Linked DNA regions of Homo sapiens. The protein of the gene in region 2 purifies or fractionates together with the protein of the main gene of each other region. This does not show direct contact. Each region holds a gene or a part of one and is shown on either strand. Other genes may lie near its edges.

Region 1 (3,500 bases), on a different chromosome or scaffold from region 2:
TTTTTGATACAAGTGGAAAGACAATTCAATGGAGAAAAAATAATCTTTTCAATAAATGGTGCTAGAACAATTCATTATCCATATGTAAAAAAAAACTTCATACACCTTGGATCATATAAAAAAATTAACTCAAAATGGATTGCAGACATAAGCATAAAACCAAAAAAAACTTCTAAAACAAAACATAGGAGAAAATCATTGTGACCAAGGGCTAGGCAAAATTTCTTAAATATAACATCAAAAAGCACAATCCATAAAACAACCAATTGGTAAACTGAACGCCAGTTTCTTCTCTTCAAAAATCATTAAGAGCATAAAAAGACAAACTACAGATAGGGAGAAAAATCTTTGCAAAGCACATATCTGATAATGGACTTATATAAGAATATATAAAGAACTCTCAAAACCAAACAGTAAGAAAACACAATACCCAATTAAAAAAAATAAGCAAAGGGGACATATGGATGGTAAGCAAACACATAAAAAGATGCTCAGTATTATTTGTCATTAGGGAAGTACAAATAAAAACCATAATGAAATGCCACTACACACCTATTAAAGGGGATAAAATTAAAAAGTCAGATCATACTAAATGTTAGCAAGGACATGGAGAAACTGGAAACTTACATACTGCTTGCGAAAATGTAAAATGGCACAACCACGTTGGAAAATAGTTTAGTGGTTTCTTAAAAAGTTGTATGTATATCTACCATATAATGCAGCCATTCTACTCCTAGGCATTAAGCAAAGAGAAAAGGCAGCATATGCCCATATAAAGACTTGTGTGCCTGAGTGTTCATGGCAGCTTAATTTGAAATTGTGAAAAAAACTGGGAACTACCCAAATAGCCATCAACAGGTGAAATGGTAAACTATGGCACATCCATACAATGAATACTGATTTGCAGTGATGATTTCAGTGTATACAAATAAAACTTATCAAACTGTACAATTTAAATATATGCAGGTTATTGTATGTTAATTATACATTCATGAAGCTGTCATAAAAGAAAAAAATATATTTTACTTTTGGAAAAAAGTTTTTTTCTTTTATGCTCTACCTCATCTTTTGAAAATGCTATGACATAGGAAAGCTTCTTGCCCCATCCTATTTCATAAAGGAGTGGCTTGTCACAGACATCTTCACATGCATCACAGTGCAGCCACCGCTGCTGAGAAGGAGAATAGACTTCTGTCCAGACATGGTCTACTCAAGTAAGAGAAAAGAGAGCAATGGAAAAAAGACAATGAAATCAGAATGACTTTCAATAACTATACACAAACTCCTAAGAATCATAAAGTAATGCATAATATTCTGAATTTCAGTTAATAAGTGCATTTTGTGGCACACAGGATTTTAGAATACCTGTATTAATTTCTGTCTCTTTGAAATCCTTAAAAATGTTTTTCCAATCTCCTTTAACGTGGTCAGTTTTAGGCTTAATGTGCGCTGTAACTCTTAAGAAGGTAGACATATTAAAGAGCAGCATAAAAAATATCATCCTGAGTTTACTATCATGAAGGAGTTAATGCCACTTTTGAAACTACAGTCTCTCTCTCTGGACTTTAAGGCCCAGAACCAGCAGGAAGTCTAATAGAATCTCTGGTCAATACATGCTTTATATTTGATTTTAAGAGAACACTAACTATTAATGGAAGGTTTCATTTAATTCTTTAGAAAATGGAAACACAAGGAAAACAACTTTTTAACATGTAGACCACACAAGTTATTTCTAAATAGGGACAACACAAATATCACATGACTTTTATTATTTCTGTATACTGTGCTTTAAGTTTATAGTTTACTAAATTTTTTACAGTAATCCCTATAGCAATGAAGATTTCTATGGTACATTATTACATGTTTTTATCCATATATAAACAGCATCACTATAAATGCCACGGTAAATTGCTAATAAAAGAAACAAGACCTAGTGTTTGATAGATCAATAGGGTGTTTACAGTTTACAATAATCCACTGCATATTTCATAATAGCTAGAAGAGAGTAATTCAAATGTTTCCAGCATAAAGACAAATATTTAAGATCTCAGACATCCCAATAATACTGATTTGCTCTGTAGAATTTATATAAATGCATTACAAGTATCCCCCAAATATGTACATCTATTATGCATCAATAAAAAAATAAAGGGGAAAAAAAGGAATATTTATAGTGCAAAGCACCAGGCACAGTGCTAGGTGTTTTACAAAACTCTTGTGATCCCTTCAAAAAACCTGGAAGGTTGGTATTATTACTGTTTTACACAAGGCAAATGGAAGGTCAGACTGACAAGGCCAAAAAGTAACAGAGAATCATGGGCTCAGAATGTAAACCCAAACCTGCAAGCCTGCAAAGCCCTACTACCCTCTGCTCATTCCACATTCTGTACCTGTGTAATCCCAAACATAGCGAGCTTCAAACCCTACAGCTCGGCAGCACAGTGTAAAACAATTGGCCCACTCGCCACACCGTCCACATCTTGTTTCCAAAAGTTTCTCAGGGTTATTATATCTGGTTTAAAAAGAAAAAAAACCTTAATTATCAAAATCAAGATTTTTAAGAGAATTTACATTACCTCTATGCTAAACAGAAATGTTTAATTTTTTTTTTTTTTTTGAGACGGAGTCTTGCTCTGTCACCCAGGCTGGAGTGCAGTGGCGCAATCTCGGCTCACTGCAACCTCCGCCTCCCAGGTTCAAGTGATTCTCCTGCCTCAGCCTCCAGAGTATCTGTGACTACAGGTGCATGCCACCAGGTCTGGCTAATTTTGTTTGTATTTTCAGTAGAGACGGGGTTTCACCATGTTAGCCAGGATGGTCTCGATCTCCTGACCTCGTGATTCGCCCGCCTCAGCCTCCCAAAGTGCTGAGATTACAGGTGTGAGCCACTGCGCCCGGCCTTTAATTTGTTTTTAAATATTTATTTAGAAATCTAGAATATATGAGGCACAATGTTAGAACATTTGGTGAAAAATAATTAAACGGTAGTACTGCTTTCAAGGTGTTCACAATCCTGAGGAAAGGGATGAACACAAATAATTTAAATATATGGCAGAATGTGATCAAACAATACAACAGGTCAGATTAGTGATCAAACAATACAACAGGTCAGAAAGTGGCTGGTGAGGAGAGCTTTTATTTGATCTGTGTTTTGAATAATGTAAGATTTGGAGAAGCAAATTCTCTAGGCAATTTGCCTAAAGCATTAGCACTAAAGTGGTATAGCTAGCTCACTGTATTTAAAAGGTAAACAACTTTAACAAATTACTCAACAAAAATTTTAGCTTAGTTTAATTCAATTTTATCTAAAATATTATCTTTCTTTCTAATAATCATTTTGATTAAAATTTTACTCTTTTGAAGTATTTAAAGGTGCCTGCTAATTTGGAAGTTGTTTTTTGGGATCTATTTGTAACATTCTTTTCAGAAGTTACTCCAATTATAAAATTACCAGACAATTCAAGAACACTAAATTTTGCATTTTGTGTTGAGATGGGTTT
Region 2 (3,500 bases):
TCTTCCACAAATAGAACCAGACTACATATTATATAGTTGTCTATATCTGAAAGGGTTTTTTTTAGGCCATTCTTGAGTATCATCGATATGTCATTATTGACAGTGGGAGGGCCTTGCCTATGTAGCTATACTGCAGCGTTAAACTTGATAACTACTTGATCACATCCTCATCTGCCAGTATACTACTGCTTACAAAATTAATTCATTACTGAATGTATTTACTATGTATAGATATTTGAATTCTCTTGGGTCCTTATTTATCAAGCATTTACTATGTGCCAAGAATCATGATAAATTCTTTCTTTACATGATTTACTTCCTTTAGTTCCTAACAATCTAATGAAGCACTCACCACTATCCTTGTATTTCAGAGAGGGAAACAGTGGTTCTTAGAGATTAGGTGGCTTGTCCAAGGTCACAAAGCTAATAAACCACAGAGCCAGGATTCAAATTGAGTTTGGTCATATTTAAATTTCTACTCTTAACCTTTCCACTTATATACTCTACTCATATTAAGTGTTAATTAATTATCTCATTGTAATGAGATACATTTAAATTCATAAAAAATATAAATTCATAAAGAAATTCATAAAAAAATTTTTTGTAACCATATGAGTATCCTAAATTTGGTCTATTTTCTAAGGTCAGATAAAGGTTTATGATAACTTTTAAAACGTTCCAGCCTCATGTCCCCATAGAAAAATCTATGAAAATAAAACAAATATACCAAAATCTAATCACTGAGCCAGCAGAGATGCCAATTTCTCAGGCTGTCTCAAACACCATCCTTAGTAAGTCCAAAATAATGTCACACTTATAAAAACAAACAAAACAACAACAACAACACACACACACACCTTTTTCACCAGTTCCTTGTTCTTTTTCAGGTTTTATTGCCTTTTCCACCAATCCCAGCCTGGCTAAAAGAATCAAAACCTTCTATGCTCTAGCTCCTGTTGCCACTGTGAAGTATACAAAAAGCCTTATAAACAAACTTAGATTTGTTCCTCAATCCCTCTTCAAGGTATGCAATTCTCTTTAATTAAGTGAATCTAAGACCCTTGATTGCCCATGGATTTTAAAGTTATAGAAAGAGAACAGAGTTATAAAAAGAGAACAATCATTTTTATATCCAAAAATGGAACTGTTCGCATCTGTATTATTTCTTCCATAGCACTGACCATGTTTGAATCTCCTTACAGCCTGCGAGATCCCCCTTTCTTTCTTTGTTCTTCATGTGAGTCAGCAATGCCTGGGAGTAGTTTTGCTTTTTCACAGATGGTTTGTTTATTAAGCACTCTACACAGTTGTGTCAAGGCTGTGATTCCACTCCAGGAGGAGGGAAGATGAAATAAAAACAAAACAAAATAGTCAAATGAGAAGACTAACCCACTTGGGCCAGAGAGACTGGAAAGAGGAGGGAAAGGAAGGGGAGGGAAAGGGAGAAAAGGAGGAAATAAATCAGTGATTGAGTGAGGCAAACACCTTGAGATCTCTCATGGCTTTCCCTTTTGGCTTTCCTAAGAGCTCCTTCATCTTTAAATGGGCGATCTCATAAGTCAGTGGTGTGGATTTCAATAAATTATAAATATTAAGTGCCTTATGCAGTAGGCACACATGTTATGGAATTAATCGTTTTGTTTGACAATGCTTAATACCCTAATTCTCTCACCCAGTAAAACCAACACACACACACACACACACACACACACACACACACACACACACACTCTCTCTCTCTCTCTCTCTCTTTCCTTTAGGGGAACGGTTTAGCCTCAGGTTATAAAATATAAGGATTCCATTTCCTTCTATGGTTTTGTACTATTCATCTCTTTTCATTCTGTATTAATATGTATGTCTAAAGCCTAAGAGAACTTACCTATAGGCAAACTACATTTGGAAAACTTTTATTAAAATCTAAAATTTTTTGATGGCCCAGAAATATTTATTGGCTACATTGATTGAGAACTTATTTCCTACTCATACTCAGATTTTCTGATAGGCAATGCAGACGTAGATTAAAATTTAGAAAAGCAATAGACCTCAAGTTAGAGGCTTGGGTAAGGATTCTAGGTATAATCGAGCTCTAATTAGCCCAAGACCCTAACTCATGTTAACCTCATGTTTCCTCGTGTATAAAATAGAGATGACAAAATATCTGCCTTCCTCAAAGAGAGTTGGGGCAAACTCTTTCAATTCTTATACTGAGCCTCATTGCCTCTGTAAAGGCTTTGCTGAAAATATGGCCAAGTCACCATTTCTCCTCCCAAACTTTTCACAATTTATTGCTGAAATCTCACATCTTGGCACTTCATTATGACAGTCTGTCATGTGTTTTTAAGATTTTATCCCACAACTCCTATCACCCCAACTAGATTGTAACTCTTTGTGTCTTATACTTCCTCTCAGCAGCCAGTACAGTTCTCAGTGCCACAATAGATACCTAGTATTGATATCTGTGCTGCCCATTTCACAACTTTATTAGGGAATTAACTAAATGAAAGTATTGGAAATTCCTAAAACAACATGTAAGAATAAGAATATATCATCATCCTCATCACACATGTATAAGTAGATTAGATAAACTAGTGAGTCTTTTCTGCAGCTTGATTGCTACAACCCTCTAATAGTGCCTTTATTTTTCAGTTTATATTTGGTGACAAAATATTCTACCCACACAACTTCTTTGATCAATTTCTTGCTACTGAAGTGTGCTCCCGTGAGATGCTGAATCTCCTTTGCAGCAATGCCTTATTTATAATTTGTGGATTTGACAGTAAGAACTTTAACACGGTTAGTATGCATTTCAATTTCTATATTTTGAGCAACATCTTTGATTACTTGTTTCATTGCCACTTAGAAGTGGTACTTTATGAGAACTAGGAGTAGGTTCAGAACTGCGATATCCTGATAAACATGAGAGAAATCACAAATCATTGCTCCCAATTTAATCACTTCCAGCATCCTTCCATCACCCCAGTTGCCCCTAAACCAAATAAACAACATGAAGAAAAAACACAATTCACTACTCACTTATGACCACCTAAATACTAGGTGTTACATTTAAATTCTGTAAGAGAAAGGACTGAACCATATATTTTAGCAGGCTCCTTTGTGAGAAAAATGTCTAGATATTGAATAAATGTTTTCAATAAATATTTCTAATGCTGACAGTCATTTTGATAAATCTTACAGACTATATTTCTGAGCAACTATTTATGTAAGACTTTGCCCATATTCTTTTTTTGAGATAGAGTCTCGCTGTCACCCAGGCTGGAGTGCAGTGGCGCAATCTCGGCTCATAGCAAGCTCCGCCTCTTGGGTTCACGCCATTCTCCTGCCTCAGCCTCCCGAGTAGCTGGAACTACAGGCGCCCGCCACCACGCCCGGCTAATTTTTTGTATTTTTAGTACAGTCGGGGTTTCATCGCGTTAGCCAGGATGGTCTCAATTTCCTGACCTCATGATCCACACGCCTCAGCTTCCCAAAGTGCTGGGATT

What was found. Proteins that work in one complex are often made in the same cells at the same time.
Region 1: the proteins of LIPF (region 2) and NGLY1 purify together in Homo sapiens (affinity purification with mass spectrometry; one large-scale study listed by BioGRID and IntAct). This does not show direct contact.

Annotation. Positions count from the first base shown.
Region 1 is NC_000003.12:25,734,944-25,738,443, forward strand, and holds part of NGLY1 (peptide-N(4)-(N-acetyl-beta-glucosaminyl)asparagine amidase), read right to left. Parts: intron 2,513-3,500; coding exon 2,391-2,512; intron 1,458-2,390; coding exon of another isoform or gene 1,366-1,457; intron 1,207-1,365; coding exon 1,061-1,206; intron 1-1,060. UniProt on the Homo sapiens protein: Specifically deglycosylates the denatured form of N-linked glycoproteins in the cytoplasm and assists their proteasome-mediated degradation. Cleaves the beta-aspartyl-glucosamine (GlcNAc) of the glycan and the amide side chain of Asn, converting Asn to Asp.
Region 2 is NC_000010.11:88,670,942-88,674,441, forward strand, and holds part of LIPF (gastric triacylglycerol lipase isoform 2 precursor), read left to right. Parts: intron 1-887; coding exon 888-1,024; intron 1,025-2,646; coding exon 2,647-2,793; intron 2,794-3,500. UniProt on the Homo sapiens protein: Catalyzes the hydrolysis of triacylglycerols to yield free fatty acids, diacylglycerol, monoacylglycerol, and glycerol. Shows a preferential hydrolysis at the sn-3 position of triacylglycerol.